Regions from separate parts of the Homo sapiens genome. Here all the other regions are linked to region 3. The links come from fine-mapping of genetic effects on gene expression. A gene starts in region 3. Each other region holds a variant in brackets. All regions are shown on one strand. Distances are between the middles of the regions.

Region 1 (5,150 bases), 280 kb after region 3:
TATGCATATGTGCAGTCACTTTTAGTTAAACACTTAATAAGTCGACTTATTAATGACATAAACTAAGATAAAACTAAGATTTTCTTTGAAAATCTAGAATGTGGTTATTTGTTGCTTTGAGCTGAAAGTAAGATAAACCTTGCCTATCTGCCTGCTGAACACCCTCTCGCCTGCCTGCCAAATACCGATGAAAGATCAGGAAGTAACACCTTTTGAAATAAGGACACTTTACTTATTATGGGAAGGGTTATCCACCTAACTGGAACACTTCCCAGAGTTGGAACCCAAAGCATGTATTGCATGATTTGGACACACTGAATCAGGAAGTTAAGGGTATAGTCTTGGAAGATAAGACAAATTTTTGAAAGTGGTACAATTACTTAACTTTAATACATCTCAGTTTCCTCACCTGCAAGTTGGAGAAAATATTCTTTACTTTTTCTCTCACTAATCAATATAAAGACTATAAAAGATAATATTGAAATAATAACAGGTAGTCAATGAACAGGTAATTATGTCTATAACCTGCTCCTGAAATAAAAGACCTTTGTATATTAGGAAGGAATGGGTCCATCCTGTTATCAGGTTAAAAAAAAGTAATTTTCAGGCCGGGCGCGGTGGCTCATGCCTGTAATCCCAGCACTTTGGGAGGCGGAGGTGGGCGCATCACTTGAGGTCAGGAGTTCGAGACCAGCCTGGCCAACATGGTGAAACCCTGTCTCTGGTAAAAATACAAAAAATTAGCTGGGCTTGGTGGTAGATGCCTGTAGTCTCAGCTTCTCGGGAGGGTGAGGCAGTAGAATAGCTTGAACCCAGGAGGTGGAGGTTGCAGTAAGCCGAGATTGCGCCACTACACTCCAGCCTGGGTGATAGAGCGAGACTCCGCCTCAAAAAAAAAAAATAATTTTCAAACCCTGACTTTATTACAGAAGGTTGAAATGAAGAACACGGATGTCATGACCACGAGTGAGCTAGGATTTGGGGGAACATTGGAAGGAAAGTGTGTTTCCACCGGTGTCCAGAAGAGGGGGCTCCTGAACAGCTGGCAAGCATATTCTGACTTGGCAGGTTCCCCACTTCAACCACAAACTACACATCTGAATGTGACCTTATCCAAAGGAGCTTACAACTCACTTGGACTCAGCGCAATGCACCCCCAAAGGCTCTTTTGTTTTCCAAAGAGACTTCTTCCTGGCGACTAATGAATAATGAACACAAGTAGTTGGGTGTGTTTGGTGGCTCCGTTTCTCTCTGCTTACTAATCGATTAGCATTCTAGTTAGTTAATCAGTCTTCTGTCCTTGGAGAGTTTCTGCAGGGCTCCCGAAACCAGCTCTGCCCTGGCCTGCTCCAGACCAGCTGCTGTTGTCGCCTCATTCTGAGGCTTGCCTTGTCTGGGGAGGATGGGAGCTGCAGCCCTGGCAGGGTCCCGCAGCTAAGTCGGAGGTCCAGGAGCTTTTTTTCTCTATGTTGCCTTAGCACATTCCAGAAGATACTGAAATCGGACCATTTACTCTGGATAGTCTGGGGTAAAGGCTACTATTACTATTCTCTTTTTGAGCCCAGGGGACACTAAGGTTTTTGTGTTTGTTGACCAAGCAGAAGAAATGATGGCTCTTCTACAAACAACCAGCCTGCCGGGACCAGCTGGGTGTCTGTAAGAATCGCCTTTTTCACAGAAAGCGATCTGTTCATCTCCTGGGCTTCTATCATACTTTCTACTACAGTGAGGTTGAAGGCTTTGCTAATTTTTTTTTTTTTTATATATATATACAGAGTCTCGCTCTGTCGACCAGGCTAGAGTGCAGTGACTGCGATCTCGGCTCACTGCCACCACCCCCTCCTGGGTTCAAGCGATTATCCTGCCTCAGCCTCCTGAGTAGCTGGGATTACAGGCACACGCCACCACGTCCGGCTAATTTTTGTATTTTTTGGTAGAGACGGGGTTTCACCATATTGGCCAGGCTGGTCTCGAACTCCTGACCTCAGGTGATCTGCCCGCCTCGGCCTCCCAAAGTGCTGGGATTACAGGCGTGAGCCACCATGCTCCACTGCTAACTTAAATTATGCAAAATTTAAATACTGTGATAGAAATATGAATAACATTTCTTTTTATACTCAGCTTTAGAAATAACGGGACTCATCTCCTCCTCCTTCCCCTGCAATGAACAAAATGCATTGATAGTCACATAATTTCCGACCTGTTGAGCTGAGTGAATTGTCAGCTGGGTTTAAGCTCTTGTGGTTTGGTGGGGGAGCCTTATTGGCAAACTGAAGTGTCTATCATCCATTAGACCATAAAACTGTTACTATATCATTGATTTTTACTTCAATTTACAATCTTTTTTAAGTCCCGTAAGAGTCA[T/C]TTTAACATTCATTAAGTGGTGGCACTCGAGCTGAGAAAACGTGTTCCCAAATCAGTTGGAAGTTATTTGGGTATAGGCCAGGCACGGTGGCTTACGCCTGTAATCCCAGCACTCTGGGAGGCTGAGGCAGGTGGATTACCTGAGGTCAGGAGTTCAAGATCAGCCTGACCAACATGGAGAAACCCCGTCTTTACTAAAAATACAAAATTTGCCAGGCATGGTGGTGTGCACCTATACTCCCAGCTACTGGGGAGGCTGAGGCAGGAGAATCACTTGAACCTGGGAGGCGGAGGTTGCGACGAGCTGAGATCACGCCACTGCACTCCAGCCTGGGCAACAAGAGTGAAACTCCATCTCAAAAGAAAAAAAAAAGGAACACAAAGGGAAGTTATTTGGGATAAAACATTATAAAGAAGGCCACATGATTACCAGGCAATTAACTGAAGAGAGAGCAGCCTGTGTACTGTGAGATGCGATGCTGGTGTTTATAGAAGCACGAGTCGCAAGTGCAAAGATATGGACCCAACCGAAGTGCCCATCAACCAACAAGTGGATAAAGAAAATGTGGTACATATACAACATGGAATGCTACTCAGCCATAAAAAGGAATGAAATAATGTCTTTTGCAGCCACTTGGATGGAGCTGCAGGCCATTATTCTAAGTGAAGTAACTCAGGAATGGAAAACCAAGTATCATGTGTTCTCACTTATAAGTGGGAACTAAGCTATGAGGATGCAGAGGCGTAAGAATTATGTAATGGAATTTGGGGATTGGGGGAAGATTGGGAGTGGGGTGAGGGATAAAAGATTCCGTATTGTGTACAGTGTACACTGCTCAGGTGACGGGTGCACTACAATCTCCGAAATCGCCACTAAAGGGCCGGGCGCAGTGGCTCACGCCTGTAATCCCAGCACTTTGGAAGGCCAAGGCAGGTGGATCATGAGGTCAGGAGATGAAGACCATCCTGGCTAACACAGTGAAACCCCATCTCTATGAAAAACACAAAAAATTAGCCGGGCATGGTGGCGGGAGCCTGTAGTCCCAGATACTCGGGAGGCTGAGGCAGGAGAATCACTTGAACCTGGGAGGCGGAGGTTGCAGTGAGCTGAGATCGCGCCACTGTATTCCAACCTGGGCAACAGAGAGAGACTCTGTCTCAAAAAAGAAAAAAGAAAAAGAAAAAAAATCACCACTAAAGAACTTCTCTGTGTAACCAAAAACCACCTGCACCCCCAAAACTATTGAAATAAAAATAAAAATTAACAAAAAGATATAATGCTGAGAAAACTAAACATTTGCTATAATGATTCTAGCTACCTGCCTACTATGAATGAAACCCCGTGGTTATTTCCATAGGAAGACTGGCTTGAATGATGTAAGTTTTACGTTATGCAAGCTTTTCAGGGCTACTTCCCTTGCATAAAATCCAACTGCTGCATACCTATTTTATGAAACTTGCAAATCCTGCCTTACAATCAGCTGTGTCTACCTCAAAGGTGAGCTTATGAAATCTTTTAAGTGGGGAACGTGCTGGCTGGACTGTGATTCCAAAGAAATGCAAACCCACAGCCTTCTCCGTGGCAGAGGTGACTTCTGCTGTGCTGCAAGGATGGTGACCCATTTCTCATCTCCTGTTTTGTGACCCTCCTAGTGAGCTGAACCTCTGCCTGGGTCCTCCGTGTAACTCTCCTCGTGTTGTCAGACCTAACTCAGAAAGTTCTGCTCCAAGTCGGCTCTGTGAGCCGAGCGCTCAGGCAGGGCTTGGAGGCTGATGTGTCCGTACCTTTACAGCAGCATGCACGGCTATGGGGGTGCTGGGGGGGCCAAGCCCCTGCTTCCCCGCATCTGACTGGTGGCTGGGCTGTGAGGCTGAGTCATTTCTGTCATTTTCTGAGCCAGAAGCAAGATCCTGAAATCCAAATGTTACCGATATTAGGAAGATACAGGAATAAGTTGTGTGACACAGAAATGTTAGAGTCCGTATATATACCTCTGCTGCTTTCATCCTAGCTTCTCACCCAAGTAAATATCAGCCTACTCCCTCAGTGGGAGGAGTCACATACGTATATGTGTGTATATATGTGTGTGTGTATATATATGTACATGTGTATACACATATAAATATGTTTATGTGTATATACATATATACATATATATATATAAACTTATCATCCAGCTGAGAACACTTTTGAGAGAGAAAGGGAATCATTCTAAGTAATGATTCCAAAAGACAGGTATAAAACTGGTCTGTTCTAGGCAAACTGGGACATCTGGTCTCGGTGTGTGGGCGTTCCACCTGTGTGTGACAAGGTCCACCTGTCTTGATAATGCAATTGAAAAAGAGCAGCAGGGAAGAGTGAGTGTAGGAATTTGGGGGGAAAGTAGGACAATGAACAAGGTAGATAAAAAGGATGTTAGCAGAAAAAGGGAAAGTGTGTGTTTGGAAGTGTGTGTGTGTATCTCCAAGTGTGTGTCTGAGTGTTTATATGTGCATGTATGTGTGTACGTGCATGCGTGCTTATGAGCATGTGTGTATATATGTGTGTGTGCATGTTAGGTGTATACGTGTGTGTGTGTGCACATGTGTGCACACAGGCATGTATATGTATATGTGGTTTTGTGTGTATACATATGTGAGTCTGTGTGTGTGTTTGTGTGTGCGTGCGCATGCATGTGTATAAAGTCATAAGAAACCTTTACCAGAGGTAGAGTCTGTAAAGGGAAAAATTATTTTCTCTTTCTCTCCTATATTCCTCTGTTTCAACTCTGACAAAAAGGAGCCAG
Region 2 (5,150 bases), 110 kb before region 3:
AGGCTGTTTACTCTGCTGGTAGTTTTCTTTGCTATGCAGAAGCTCTTAAGTTTAATTAGATCTCATTTGTCAATTTTTGCCTTTGTTGTGATTGCTTTTGGTCTCTTTGTCATGAAATCTTTGCCCGTCCTTATGAATGACTAGAAAGTTATTAGTGACATTTTGCCACAGCCAAAAAGAAAGAGGTATCTAACAATAAAAATCAGCCTACAATTAGATGGTCTGTCTTAGGAAGCACTGAGACCTCAACCCAGGAAAGAATTTAGAGCCATTTGTAATGTTTCTAAGGAAATTCCTGCACTGAGGAAAGATGAGACTGGATGATTCATAAGGTTCTGTCCAGCTCTAAGATCCTACAATTCCAGTTTTCCAGATTGCTTTAGTCCTGCCAAGCGGAAGAAAATGTGGTATGTTTGATTAAAGAAAAGATAGAATTTTTCAGAAAATGACCAAACCCTTCCAATACAGATGTTTTTGACTTCCTGTGCAAATGGTTTGCAGTGAAACTTGAAAGCAGGGACTTGCAGAAATCAACCTTTCCTTTCGCATTTCATGGAATTATTGGTTCTGAAAGACAAAGCCTGAAGACACTTGTGTTGGCCCTCTTATACCAGACACCAGGTGATTGGACAATATTATGAAACACTCCCTTGGAAGTGGCAGCTAGGATATCTCACCAAGTCATGGTTTTAGGAAACTTTCCCCTTTAGGTGTCAGCCAAAGTGCAGAAAGTGGAAACAGACTGTGTGGCCCACCCCGAGACCAGGCTTTTACTGGTGGTAAATGAAGAGGCGCGGCTGCAGACCGGATGGAGCTCTAAGGAGCAAGGCACGAGAGCCTGTAAAATTTTGCTTTGAAAAAAAAAAATCCCCTTGGTTCCAAAATTTTATCAAAGTGAGAATTTAAACAAAATGTCTTCTTCAGTTATTAAGCCAACACTAATACCAAAGCTAGGCCCAAGACAAGATCATGAACACATGACTTAGGTTATTTAGGCTGAAGTGCAATAAACTTGTTTATCTGGTTCCCAGAGCAGACAACAATGTCAAGCAGCATTGTGAAAACTCTTGGTAGATATTCACGATGGTGAGAGAATTTTGGCTCCTTCATTACCTACAAAGGTGAAGGAAAGAATGAAGGATTTCCTACCTGCACAATTTTGGAGAACATAATATTGCATGTAGCAGAGCTGAAAAAGTAAGACTACAGTAAGTCAGAATGTGCCTAAGGGATGGGTCTCCCCAAAAGGAGCTCCAAGATACGCAGCAAGTCTCTGGACAAAAGAACCAAGATATCACGTCCTCCCCAATGTAGCGAGGACTGTCAGGCAATACAAAATGAAAACAATAGAACATGCTAAAATGAAGGCAAAGAGATTAAGGCAGTTGAGGGAGGGAACTTGTTATAACAATTGCTGCGATGAATAGTGCCCTCACTATGCACCAGGCAGACACTCCACCCTACATGCATTATCTCCTTTAACTCACACAACAAAGCGGTAAGTGATCTGTTCGTGTTCAACAGAGCTAGCGGGAGGCAGAGCCAGGATGTAGCCCATGGCAAGCTGATTATGTAGCCCCTGCTCTTAAGCATGACGTCACTCTAAAAGAGGTAAGAGGTGGCCTGTGGCTCAGAAGACTGAACTCCCAATAATGTTTTTCACTTTGTAACAATTTATGTAGGACTATATATAAGACTATGAGAATCTTTGTGTCCAACAGGATCACAGAGATCACTCTCACTCCCAGTTTCCTGCCCCATATAGGTTACTTTCTATGTCACCATTGGCAAGTGACTCTCTTTATCTACCTACATCTAACACTGAACCCATTTCCTCACTGAAAGCTCATTCCACCGCTGGCCACTTACACTTGTTAGAAATTCTTCCACATATTAAGCTGTTATCAACCTGCCTTTTTTTTTTTTTTTTTTTTTTTGAGACTGCCTCTCGCCCTGTAGCCCAGGCTGGAGTGCAGTGGCGAGATCTCAGCTCACTGTAATCTCCGTCTCCCAGGTTCAAGTGATTCTCCTGCTTCAGCCTCCTCGGTAGCTGGGATCACAGGCACCCAACACCACGCCTGGCTAATTACTTGTAATTTTAGTAGAGACGGGGTTTGACCATATTGGCCAGGCTGGTCTCGAACTCCTGACCTTGTGATCCGCCCGCCTCAGCCTCCCAAAGTGCTGGGATTATAGGTGTGAACCACCACACCCTACATCAACCTGCCTTTCAATGCCCACTGCCTATTATTCAAAAGTTTAGAGCAAAACAGAAAAGTCCAGCAGTTTCTCTACATATAAAGCACATCATAGAGTCGAAGGCAACTGTCACTACCCCAAGTTCTCACCCCTTCAGGAACAATATTGTAAGTTCCTTCAATCATTTCATAAACAAAAAAAAACAAACAAACAATGACTGCCTGCACTACCATTGCTATAGCCGTCAAACCCACAGCTGCAGTTGTCACCATCACTAACTCTTCAGGGGTGAAGAAAAAAGAAATATATGAGAATAATTAGGCACAATCTCAGTTCACTGTAACCTCTGCCTCCCAGGTTCAAACAATTCTCCTGCCTCAGGCTCCTGAGTAGCTGGGACTACAGGCACACTCCACCACGCCTGGCTAATTTTTGTGTTTTTTTTTTTGTAGAGACAGGGCTTCACCATGTTGGCCAGGCTGGTCTTGAACTACTGACCTGAGGTGATCTGCCCACCTTGGCCTCCCAAAGGGATTACAGGGGTGAGCCACTGTGCCCAGTCCTGTGGTGTGGCATTTGAATTAAAGGTATCAAAATGAACTCATAGGGTGTTTTTTAATAGCTATGTAAGTAGATTGATAGGTACAGGTTTCTGTGTCTACATGGGTTAATACATATTCATGTAGTATTCTCAAGCTCTTTCCATGGAGCGAGCCTAGAAGCAATGAAATCTCAGTAACAATGAGCACATCCTGTGCCTAGACCTTAGTTTCTAAATACCATTCTTTAATAAAAGGTGACAGGGCTTCTTGGAGAAGTAGCTAATTCCTGGGTTGAGACAAGAAAAATACATGATGAACCTGTGACATCTTGTGAGGCTAGAAAGTAAGAAAGTGCTGAAGCAAGGATGGGGGCTTGTCAAAAGGACATAGGAGCCAATCTGAGAAAGCACCTAGTA[T/A]CCCAAACTGGAACCAATTGAACAACAAAGAAAACAACAATAGTATTAGATTGTAATCAATCTATTAAAATCAATATCCATGAGACCATACAGGTATAAGTAAATAATTGAATAAATAAGTCAATGGCAGAGAAGGGACGGCTATTCTTTTACAGGAGAATTCCAATTAATAAATGCAAAAGAAACGAGGAAGATGGAAAATAACCAACAGTAATAATTAGAGATGAAATCCACTAATGCATCATAAAATTAATTGGCAAAAGTTTGGGGGGAGATAGGATGTTTGAAGATGGAAAGTAACCAATAGTAATTATAGACAAAATCCATTAATGCATAATAAAATGAATTGGTAAAAGTTTGAGGGGAAATAGGATATTTGAATACTCTACAGTTATATCCCATGATATATATGACAAAAGGGAAGATGGTAAGTTTATTTTGAAGAAACTCAAGTAGACCTCAACCAAGTGGTGAAAATAAACATCACCAGTAATAAGACACATTAATATCATGTGCCTTCTGATGTAATGTACTCTGAAAATGCGCATCACCTCTGCAGCATTCCTGCCAAAAATTCATTACCTCAATCTAATCATGAGAAAACATCAGACAAATCCAAATGGAACAACACTTTACAAACTAACTGATGGGTAGTTTTCAAACGCATCAAAGTCTCAAAATTAAAAAAAAAAAAGAATGAGGAACAATATAGTTTGGTCAAGGAGTCTTGACACCTAAATGCAATATGGTGCCCTGGATTGGAAAACATGACTGAAAAAAATTGATTAAAGTTTGTAGTTTACTTAGTGTTAGTGTACCAATGTTAATTTCCTAGCTTTAATAACTGTATCATGATTATAGAAATTTTTCTGAAAAGATTCACGTTTCATATTTTCAATGTATAAATCAGGCCTGTTTCACATATCTCCAACACATCTCAAACTATTACATTTAAAAAGTTGGGGTACTGGCCAGTCGTGGTGGCTCACACCTGTAATCCCAGCATTTTTGGAAGCTGAGGTGGGTGGATCACTTGAGGTCAGGAGTTGCAGACCAACCTGGCCAAAATGGTGAAACCCTGTCTCTATTAAAAATACAAAAATTAGCCGGTGGTGGCAGGTGCCTGTAACCCCAGCTACTCGGGAGGCTGAGGCAGAAGAATCGCTTGAACCCACAAGTCAGAGGTTGCAGTGAGCAGAGATCACACCACTGCACTCCAGCTTGGGCAACACTGCAAGACTCTGCCTAAAAAAAAAAAAAGTTGGGGGATTCTCTATTTTTGCAATTTTCTTTCTTTCTTTTTTTTTTTTTTTTTAAACATCTACTTTGTGTATTTTTTTTTTTTTTTTTTGAGACACAATTTCGCTCTTGTTGCCCAGGCTGGAGTGCAATGGCACAATCTTGGCTCACCGCAACCTCCGTCTCCCGGGTTCAAGCAATTCTCCTACCTCAGCCTCCCGAGTAGCTGGAATTACAGGCATGCACCACCATGCCTGGCTAATTTTGTATTTTTAGTAGAGACGGGGTTTCTCCATGTTGGTCAGGCTGGTCTCGAACTCCCAACCACAGGTGAGCCGCCAGACTCGGCCTCCCAAAGTGCTGGGATTACAGGCGTGAGCCACTATGCCCGGCCTGCAATTTTCTATAAATTCAAAAATATTTTGAAATTAAAAAATTTTAAACGTATAATTACATACTCTTTAGGAAATAACAATAGCGTTTAAGGTTAGAGAAATTATTCTTAAATGCCTTTCATTATCAAAAGGAAAAATGGAAATACAAGTACTAAAATCTTTTCATGTGAGAGGCCTAAAAATATACACATGTATACATATATCCAGTAAAAAGAGAAATGAATAAGGATAAAGGCAAGTGTCAATAAACTGAAGAAAAACAGAAGTAATGTTGAATGAATCAAAAAGAGAAAAACAGAAGTACACAAGTCAGAGTCTGAAAACAGGAATATTATAGCCATTTATAACCATGGATAGAG
Region 3 (5,133 bases):
GACAGTCTACATGGATGGAGAGGCAATGGGAAATGAACCAAAGCACCCCCAGCAGGGCCAGTACCCAGGACCCACACCTGTGAGTGTGAGGTTCCACTCCCATTGAGCCACCCAGCAGCCACTGCAAGGAGCAGAGACAGGCTATTCTTACTAAACACAACCGTGACCAACAAAAGGACTGAAAGTGATTTCAAGCCACAAGCTGCCCATATACAAAATGGATAACAAAAAGAGACTCAAAGCAAGAGGAAGTGGCTGTATTATATTAATTGTTAATATCACTGACTTCTGAAAGTCTGTCGCCTCGATTTCCACTTTCTCTGCTGTCCCGATGGTCAGGCTGCCTCTACTCCAGCAAGTCCAGAGACACTTTTCTGTTTCAGACTCTCTGAACTATCCTTTTGGAGGTACCAGTCACACCAATCCCCTTCAGAAAACACATACATTGTTGTCTTGATTCAATTTTAGGCCCTGCTTAGTTGTAAACTGAAAACCTCATTTAAGCTACTGGCTTGCTTCTAATTTCCTAGTATTTATTGTCTGCCACAAGCCAGACTCTGTCCTAGGAGCTAATGATACAGCAGAGGACCAGATAGACAAATCCCAGGCTCATGAAATTTACATTCCAGTATAACCTCAGATTGAAGAAGTACTAGCTATTGTCTTCATATACCAGGAATAAAAATATGACCCAAAGCATAAGTGCAGAAAGTACACTGGGCCCTAGAAACAACCTAAATAGCATCCAGCCCTCAGAATTTTATATAAGTCGATGACCAAAAGTGATTCCTCCTATAATTTTGAGATAAGTAGTTTGAGATTACCCAACAGATAGATATGCACATAGGGCACCAATAAAATAGAGGAACCAATGTATTTTTGTTTGTGAAATTTGATATATTTTTTAAAAGGATCAAAGCAGTCATCACAGGAAAAAAATCAGTATTTTATTTATTGCACTACACTTTTTAAAAGTAGTTTTAATGAATTAATTTTCTTTTTCTTTTTTTTTTTTTTTTTTTTTTGTAGAGAGTGTCTCACTCTGTCAGCCAGGCTGGAGTAAAGTGGTATGATCATAGCTCACTGCAGCCTCAAACCCCTGGGTTCATGTGATCCTCCTGTCTCAGCCTTCAGAGTAGCTGGGACAACAGGTGTGTGCCACCATGTCCAGCTAATTTTTACTTATTTTTAAATTTTTTAGTATTTTTTGGTAGAGATGAGGTCTCGCTTTGTTGCCAGAGCTGGTTTGTTTGTTTGTTTTTGAGATGGAATCTCCCTCTGTCACCCAGGCTGGAGTGCAATGGTGTGATCTTGGCTCACTGCAACCTCTGTCTCTGGGGTTCAAGTGATTCTCCTGCCTCAACCTCCCCAGTAGCTGGGATTACAGGCCCATGCAACCACTCCCGGCTAATTTTTGTGTTTTTAGTAGAGACGGGGTTTCATCATGTTGGCCAGGCTGGTCTCGAACTCCTGACCTCAGGTGATCCACCTGCCTCGGCCTCCCAAAGTGCTGGGATTACAGGCATAAGCCACCATGCCTGGCCACAGAGCAGGTTTTGAACTACTAGCCTGAAGCTATTCTCCCGCCTTGGCCTCCCAAAGTGCTGGGATTACAGATATGTGCCACGGTGCCCAGGCTTTAAGCAACTTTTAAAAACTATCATTTTTATTTCAAATACTTATGGAGATGGTGGTATGATAATCTTTTCAGTTTGTAACGCCCTCTAACTGTGTAAAGTAGATCTGAAGTGTTTTCCTGACCCTCACTGGGATGGTTATTTCAAGTACAAAACGTTTTCACACCGTGGGTGATAATCTTCCATAAAAAATTTCATATTTGAATGAAAACAGCTCAAGAAATACACTAATGAGCAAAAATATATGGGGAAAGAGGAACGTGTAGTTTTGACTTAACTGAAGAAACCAAGAGGAAACTGGTCTCCATATGAAAATGTGATCCTGGAAAGTCAGGTGTCAAGATTTTCGAGTAGGAATCTACATGACTTGAATCTCCCTTACTTCCTGAATAAAAGTGACATCTTTCAGTATTTATTTAAAAAAATCATATGTCAGTGGAGCTTCCAGGTAAATTATCTTTAAAAAATCATATTTGAGTGGAGCTTCCAGGTAAATTATCTTCCTCTTTTAAGGGAGCTCCCTGTATTTCTAGCGGCTTTAACTGATATCCCTTTCAGTGAGAAATCCTCATTAGCTACATAAGAGGGGACTGGGTGTTTTTTTCAAAAAGCTGGTATTGGGACATCTACCTCTGTGATGTCCCTGGTCAGCTATATTGTCTAGGAGTTGAAACATTTTGTATTAATTTTCTATCATTTACTGGGTGCCTCTTCTGTGACAGTGCCACTCAAAGGTCTATTGATATATTATCAGGTGACTGAATTCTATATTCTGAAGTAGGAGATACTGTTATTGCTGTTATTACATTTTACACATAAGAAAGCTGAGGCTCTGAGAGGTCAAGATCACGCAGCTAACAAATGAGCCAAGACTCTTGCTTTAGAGCTTGTCCTCTATTCTTGCTTTTCTTTCCAAAAAACACTACAATTTTTGTTTTGTTTTGTTTTGTTTTGAGACAGGGTCTCGAGGTGTCACCCAGGCTGGAGTGCAGTGGCGCGATTTCGACTCACCGCAACCTCCGCCTCCGCGCTTAAGCGATTCTCCTGCCTCAGCCTCCCAAGTAGCTGGGACTACAAGCTCGGGACACCACGTAAAAATGATCAAGTTCTAACATGTATGCATACGAATTACAATGGAAATAAAATTAGCAAAGCGCTTATGCTAATGCTCAATACAATTGATTTCCTCACATTTAATCCTCACAACCACTACAACCACCTCTAACTCAAGCTCTGAGGGACTGACGTGCCCGGAGGACACAGCTCTTATCTGGTGAGAACAGGAGCGTTTTAGCGAAACTCCAAACTCCTAGGTCCCGCCTTCCCCAGGAAGGCTTTTCCTGGCACTGTGCTTCCGGAAGTCCCGCCCCAGGAGAAAAACAGCTTCCGGAAAAAATTGCGGCCGGCAAACCGGAACAGAACTAGGGGCGGGGCCGCTTGAGACGCTCTAGTATTCCTCTACTCTATGGCCACTGTCAATTGACAAGTCCCGAGCGGTAAAGCTCCTTTCTATTGGATGAGCAGCCTCGCGTAGGCGGGAAGCTCGGTGCACGGCGCGCTGATTGGCTGGATCCGCCATGCGGAGCGGCTAGGTGGTGCACGGGAAACGCGGGCGTAGGTGACCGGCGGCTTTCTCAGTTTTGGTGGAGACGGGCGCATGTGGGCGCTTTGCTCGCTGCTGCGGTCCGCGGCCGGACGCACCATGTCGCAGGGACGCACCATATCGCAGGCACCCGCCCGCCGCGAGCGGCCGCGCAAGGACCCGCTGCGGCACCTGCGCACGCGAGAGAAGCGCGGACCGTCGGGGTGCTCCGGCGGCCCAAACACCGTGTACCTGCAGGTGGTGGCAGCGGGTAGCCGGGACTCGGGCGCCGCGCTCTACGTCTTCTCCGAGTTCAACCGGTCAGTCAACGAGCCACGCCCCGTCCCGCTGGGCCCTCAGTGCGGCGCAGCCTCTGAGCATCGGGGCACCTCCCAGGGCTTCGGCTTCCCTGCTTCACACATGTGGTTCACTGTTGCGGGGGTTCGTGGAGTTATGGTGGGTGGGAAATCCGAGATTCTTTGCATCCATGTGATTTCTGCGGATCTGTGAAGAACTTCAGGCCTGGGTCTGAGCGTCCTTTTCCCAACCCTTGGGCCCCGGCCTGGCTGTCAGCACTTTCGGAGCTCCACCCTCTTCCGTGCACCCCAAGGCCAGTGTGTCGTTGTTAGCGTGTGGGGTGGACAGATCTGGTGTGTAGCCGGTGGTGGAGAAAGGACTCATTTTGTCCTAGCACCCACACACACAGGCCCCCACTCCTCTCCACCTCTGCTAAGGAGGGCTCAAAACCCACCAGCATAAATGTGGCTCGGTAGTCCAACGTGGACTTTTAATTTTTTTTTCTTTTTTTTTTTTCCAGAGTCTACAATAAAACATCTAATTGGTGTCAGAGAGTTTACAGAATAAAACCTTCTGAATGTCTTGTGTAATGTTTGTCTTGTAGGTATCTCTTCAACTGTGGAGAAGGCGTTCAGAGACTCATGCAGGAGCACAAGTGAGTCAGTCTCTTGCTTTCGGAGGGGGAGTTGATTACGGGGCTTGAAAGCCGAAATGAGAGGCCAGTTGTTTTTTATAGCAAAAGTGGTCCTTGTTCTGTTCATGTTATCCTGTTTAAATGTTTTTTCATTCTTAGGTTAAAGGTTGCTCGCCTGGACAACATATTCCTGACACGAATGCACTGGTCTAATGTTGGGGGCTTAAGTGGTGAGTATATTCTTTGCAGTGTCAGAGGCTGGTGGGAAGTCTCTGGGATTTTAACCGGCTTTACCATTTTTCCAAGTCTGGGGTGGGCAGCTACTTTTTTTTTTTTTTTTTTTTTTGTCAGTGGCGTGATCTTGGCTCACTGCAACCTTTGCCTTCTGGGCTCAGGTGATCCCCTCACCTCAGCCTCCCAAATAGCTGGGACCACACGTGTGCCCCATCACACCTGGCTAATTTTTTTTGTATGTTTTGTAGCGACGGGGTTTTGCTATGTTGCCCAGGCTGGTCTCAAACTTCTGCGATCCTCCTGTCTCGGCCTCCCAGAGTGCTGGGATTACAGGCATGAGCCACCGCACCTGGCCTGGAATTCTTTTTATACCAGCCCAGTCAGCAGCAGCACAGAGCATTAAAAGCTGTGACTCAGGAGAACAGATTTTAATATGGATACCACCTCTTAAGTGTTACCATCCACTTAGTTTCTTGCGTTGCGGGGACAGAGATTTGTGGCAGTAAACTGGAGAGTCTAGCAGTGGTGATTACAGTTAATATGTTTACCGCAGACGCCATTGGCACATTGGCAGCCACACACATACCCACTGTCCAGATTACCCTGTCATTTATGTCTATCAACCGGAAGGTCAGGATTGTGTTGCAGCCAAATTGTGTGGGCTTGGTGGCATGGACCGGAAGGAGTGAAGTGTTAGACCAGTCTCCCTTCTCAGGGCTGAGACTAGGGTGAGGCACTTAGGGTGCCAG
Region 4 (5,150 bases), 26 kb after region 3:
TGACTGCTGTTTCCTCATCATAGTGACTATGATTTAACTCATGTTTTCTCCTAAGAATGATTTTGGGGTTCTCCAGCCAAAGACTTAAACTTTGGTTCCAGATGTCCAAGAAACGTTTATTATCATTTTAAATGTTTTGTCTTTTTACAGTATGATTCCTGCCAAATGCCTTCAGGAAGGGGCTGAGATCTCCAGTCCTGCAGTGGAAAGATTGATCAGTTCGCTGTTGCGAACATGTGATTTGGAAGAGGTAAGGGGCACAGCCGCAGGCATCATGGGGGCGAGGTGGGGAGCAGAGCTGCAGAGCCCTCCAGCCCCACCCTTTCAGTTTCAGACCTGTCTGGTGCGGCACTGCAAGCATGCGTTTGGCTGTGCGCTGGTGCACACCTCTGGCTGGAAAGTGGTCTATTCCGGGGACACCATGCCCTGCGAGGCTCTGGTCCGGATGGGTGAGTAGAGGAAGAAGCAAGCCACCCTGAGGTTGCTCTGGGGTTTGTGTAGCTGGAGGTGAATGCAGGTGGGCTTGCAGGGAAACGTCAGCAGAGGCAGGAGACTCAGGTCCCCACCCTCAGAGTCTCTGGTTGTCATCCTAGTAGGCAGACCCAGGGCCAGGGGAGCTGAGTGTTGAGACCAGGAAACAGCACGTGACTGAGGCCTGTGTGCCGCTCTCGCAGAGAACTCTGCCCTGATCCTTGTGCTGCTTCTCCAGGGAAAGATGCCACCCTCCTGATACATGAAGCCACCCTGGAAGATGGTTTGGAAGAGGAAGCAGTGGAAAAGACACACAGGTAGCAAAGGCCGGTCAGTCCTTGTCGCCCACATCCTCTCCCTCCCCCACTACGTGACACTGAGCAGCCGTCGTTTGTCTCCACTGATGTGGGGCTGCCCTGCTTCCTATCAAGGGCTATGGGGGCTTCCTTGACCTGTGGCAGTGCTCACAGGCTCTTGGCCTTTATTTTTGCAGAATTTTCTAAGCAAGATTCTAGAGTGAGGCACAGTTTTTTGAAAGCATCTAGAAATCGGCTGAATAAACTATAAGCCATGTCAGGGAATTGCCAGGGGAAGGCGGGGGCTGGGGGACTGAATTTTTGGCTGCTAATTTCAACGAAAGAGTGCATTACCCCAGGTGGGCCCTGTGGTTTCTCTTGGGTGCCCTCATGGACAGATTTGGCAGCCAGCACAGAGGGTGGGCTTCATCCAGGGGTGTGTGCGAAGGCTCTGGCCCTCAGGGGAGATTGTGCTGGCTACGGAGGTGCCCGTTAAGAAAACCCACCAGCTTCCCCGGGTGCCCTGGCAGTTGATGGCCAGGGTCTGTGCCACTGTCTGCTTTGCAGTCTTGCAGTTGAGTTCAGCTTCAGTCTGCTCTGTCCTTCACCTGCAGCACAACGTCCCAAGCCATCAGCGTGGGGATGCGGATGAACGCGGAGTTCATTATGCTGAACCACTTCAGCCAGCGCTATGCCAAGGTCCCCCTCTTCAGCCCCAACTTCAGCGAGAAAGTGGGAGTTGCCTTTGACCACATGAAGGTCTGTATGTCACACGGACAGCACAGGGCGGGGACGGGGCAGGGAGACAGGACTCTACACACTGAGTAGGACGGTCAGCTGGAGTTTGCTTTCTTATTTGGGGCCACCGTGGGAAAAGGTTATCTACCCATCACTAACCAGGTCGAACCACCCTGGGTTTGCTGGTGAGACCCACCTCCTGCAGGGGCCAACTAGTCTTCAGTCTCAGTTCACTGGAAATTTCTGAGAATCCTTTTAGGCCTGGACTGCTCACACAGTCATGGCATTTGAGCCTCAGCACAGACCTGTGAGACAGGTGGTTGCCTCTTGTGAGTGGGAAAGCCAGGCCTGACCCTTGGCCTTCCGGAATGAAGGGGCAGAGCCGGAGCCAGGCCTCGTTTTTCAGGAGCTTGATTTTGAGAGCATCTGGACTGCTCTCCCTTCCCTCTCCGGAGGCCCTTAGCCAGGCCTGGGGAGCCTCTGCCCCTTTAGAGGGTTCCCTCCATGCCATTCTTTTTTCCATTTCAGCTGTGGCCTGTTGGCTTGTGCCAAGGAAGGGGCGTTGGCGCTGCTGTGTGAGCACATGACTGCATCCCTTCCAGCTCCTGTCCCCCACCCCTGCCCCTCTGAGACATGTCCTTGTCTTCTATTGTGTCTTCTAGGTCTGCTTTGGAGACTTTCCAACAATGCCCAAGCTGATTCCCCCACTGAAAGCCCTGTTTGCTGGCGACATCGAGGAGATGGAGGAGCGCAGGGAGAAGCGGGAGCTGCGGCAGGTGCGGGCGGCCCTCCTGTCCAGGGAGCTGGCAGGCGGCCTGGAGGATGGGGAGCCTCAGCAGAAGCGGGCCCACACAGAGGAGCCACAGGCCAAGAAGGTCAGAGCCCAGTGAAGATCTGGGAGACCCTGAACTCAGAAGGCTGTGTGTCTTCTGCCCCACGCACGCACCCGTATCTGCCCTCCTTGCTGGTAGAAGCTGAAGAGCACGGTCCCCCAGGAGGCAGCTCAGGATAGGTGGTATGGAGCTGTGCCGAGGCTTGGG[C/G]TCCCACATAAGCACTAGTCTATAGATGCCTCTTAGGACTGGTGCCTGGCACAGCCGCGGGCCAGGAGGCTGCCACACGGAAGCAAGCAGATGAACTAATTTCATTTCAAGGCAGTTTTTAAAGAAGTCTTGGAAACAGACGGCGGCACCTTTCCTCTAATCCAGCAAAGTGATTCCCTGCACACCAGAGACAAGCAGAGTAACAGGATCAGTGGGTCTAAGTGTCCGAGACTTAACGAAAATAGTATTTCAGCTGCAATAAAGATTGAGTTTGCAATTGTGAGTTCTTTTGCTTCCTCCTGCTGCTGCTACAGAGCAGGGTCTGCTGTGCACCACCTTGGAGAAGGCTCTCTGTGCTGTAGTGTGGCAGCTGCCTGGTACCCGGGTGGCTTGGAAGAAGTCAGCTCCCGTCGTAGTGAGCACCTCTGGAACCTGTCCTCAGAGAGCCACCCTTATTCGCCAAGTCTTTTTGACAACTCGAGCTGTGCCAGCTCACAGCAGGGCGTGCTTTCTCTATCAATCAATCAATCAATCAATCAAATCAATCAGTGAGAGCCTGGCTGGGCTGGTGTCATTGGTCAGGGAAATGCAAGTCTTCTGGTGGTTCTGGGTAAAAGTGGAGACAATAGATTTGCTGTGTTGTTGCTTCCATACTGAGAGGAGTGAGGATCACTTTGCCCTCGAAGGTTTTGAGAAATGGCACACGGGGCTGGTTTCCATTGTCCTCCTTGCGGGATTTACAGACGTGGATTAGTGCTCGACAAATGGAGAGCATTTTCCAAGGAAGTAAGTAAGTAAAGTAAGTAAGTAAGTAAGTAAGTTGAATCTAGTATTTATTGTGTATATTCCCTACCCAGGAGAATGTAAAAAGAAGAGCTTTAAAAACTCAAAAGACAAGCAAGCGAGAGATCAGCCAGGGACCTGGCTTTACACAGGTGGTGACCTTCAGGCTCCATCCCGGTGTGCATTTGAGATTGACGGCCATGTCCCCGCAGGTTTATTAAAGCAAGAACAGATGCCAAGCTCAGGGATAATAAATCTATTTTAATAACGTTACTTTTGACAACGATTTGTACATGTATTTAAAGATAACAACTTTCAACCCCCACCCTTACCCCAGACTCCCATTACAAATTGAGGCATGACCTGCCCTTGCCAGGAAGTGAGCAAAGCTGCAACATCAAAACTCTGCACATCCCACTCTCAGAGGAGGGTGACTTTACACTGTGTTGGGAAAAATAACTAAGCATTTAAATTTTTCATTGTACACCTGTACATTGGTTTAGATTGAATGGCTCAAATTAAACAAATATAGAGAGATTTCATATATACAAATATTATATCATGTATAGGTATATTATATCATCTATTTGAAAAGGATAAAATTTTAAACTTTGACTTTGCATGCATGGCCCAAATCTTTTCTCACTCCCCTAATCCCCAAGTGTGAAAAGGCTACCCGGTGCCCTCCCGGCCCTCGTCCCCATGACCAGATGGGACTTCATGAGAAGGAAATGAGCGGCTGACGCTGGTGAGCAAAGCAGGCCACACCGCAGGCCGAGCCCGTGGGCCAGCGTCTCCGTGGCTGGTTTCACTTTTCCTCCACATGCTTTGGGTAACGTAATTATTGCTATTCAGTTTGAACCTCCAGAAAGAAGAGACAGGCTCCAGGACCCCACAGACTAGTGAACTGGGTGCCTTTAGGTACGTAGAGGGGTAAAATTACTCTCATATAGCCAATATATTTGGGGACAGGGAGGCCACCTTTGGCTCCTCCAGACACTGTCAGGCTTGTTTGTTTTGTTTTATAGATTCAGAAATATAAAATGATATAGGAGCTTTCAGTCACACAGTGGAAAAAGGAAAACTGTTAGGAAGTGAAACATTTTTGTTTTCAGCCATTTACTTTGGAGCCCACTGATGGGGGCGGCCTGAAAGGTTTTCCAGTGGCAAGCCCTCCCCCAGGTAGCTGGCAAAGGTCAGTGCCCCAGGACTGCTAGAATCCTGGACCTGGTCCAGTTGTGGGTGAGAGGGGCCCTGCTGTCCTGCTTCCTTTCTGTGGCCATTAAACTGATCCTGCAAGACCTGACATGAGCCGTCCAAGGAAAAGGTAGCAGCCCTTGGGTCTAACCAGGCAAAGTGAGCCTCTCCCGCACCACCCCGACCCTGCAAAGGACGTTCCTGACCAGCCTTGGATGGAGAGGTGGGTGTTTTCTGGCATGGAGGCTGAAAGTGGATCAAAAGAGGCACAAAGTCAAAAGGCAAAGGTCAAACAAAAGGCCGAAGTCACCACCCGAAAGGAACAAACAAAACCTGCACCACCAGCATCACCACACGGACTGGAGATCACAATTTTCTGCCAAATTCCAACCTCGTGTTGGCAGTGGCAGGAAAGAGCCAGCAGAGAACACTTGGCAAGCTCATGGACGCTGCTCCTGGCGGCGTTCCTAGGGCCCGTGATGTATGTACACGCGAGGCAGGATGGGCGGTGTCATGTCAGAGGGCGGTGCTCTCAGACTCCTCCTCCGAGTCCCTCTTGTCAGTTACTGAGTGTCGCCGCATGTGCTCCAGGGGACTCAGGCGGAGCGTCGACCCGAGCTCTATG

Alleles and levels. Alleles are on the strand shown, and positions count from the first base shown. SD is a standard deviation of normalised expression in the study named. Not every link is listed here.
With allele T in place of C in region 1, the expression in CD4 T cells of the gene that starts at base 3,215 in region 3 is lower (large effect, 1.8 SD a copy in Kasela 2017).

What was found.
Region 1: its variant is fine-mapped to the expression of ELAC2 in CD4 T cells (Kasela 2017, PIP 0.95).
Region 2: its variant is fine-mapped to the expression of ELAC2 in skeletal muscle (FUSION, PIP 0.95). The same link has a PIP of 0.9 or more in subcutaneous fat.
Region 4: its variant is fine-mapped to the expression of ELAC2 in whole blood (TOPMed, PIP above 0.99). The same link has a PIP of 0.9 or more in blood mononuclear cells, cerebellum, esophagus mucosa, gastroesophageal junction, left ventricle and neural progenitor cells.

What each region holds. Positions count from the first base shown.
Region 1 is chr17:12,738,328-12,743,477 of GRCh38, reverse strand. MYOCD (myocardin) reads right to left here. Exons shown (of 14, transcript NM_001146312.3): 7 at 4,150-4,275. Among named protein-coding and RNA genes, the nearest start is that of MYOCD-AS1, 35 kb to the right of the region's middle. The variant T/C (reference allele first, on the strand shown) is at 2,365.
Region 2 is chr17:13,124,770-13,129,919 of GRCh38, reverse strand. No RefSeq gene overlaps it. Among named protein-coding and RNA genes, the nearest start is that of ELAC2, 110 kb to the right of the region's middle. The variant T/A (reference allele first, on the strand shown) is at 3,158.
Region 3 is chr17:13,016,109-13,021,241 of GRCh38, reverse strand. ELAC2 (elaC ribonuclease Z 2) reads left to right here and starts at 3,215. Exons shown (of 24, transcript NM_018127.7): 1 at 3,215-3,539; 2 at 4,121-4,171; 3 at 4,310-4,380. The coding sequence starts at 3,295. RefSeq lists a silencer at 3,098-3,177 and enhancers at 3,698-3,757, 3,778-3,887, 3,399-3,899.
Region 4 is chr17:12,990,063-12,995,212 of GRCh38, reverse strand. ARHGAP44 (Rho GTPase activating protein 44) reads right to left here. Exons shown (of 21, transcript NM_014859.6): 21 at 3,570-5,150. The coding sequence ends at 5,042. ELAC2 (elaC ribonuclease Z 2) reads left to right here. Exons shown (of 24, transcript NM_018127.7): 20 at 151-250; 21 at 329-449; 22 at 710-788; 23 at 1,382-1,526; 24 at 2,168-3,601. The coding sequence ends at 2,395. Among named protein-coding and RNA genes, the nearest start is that of ELAC2, 25 kb to the left of the region's middle. The variant C/G (reference allele first, on the strand shown) is at 2,546.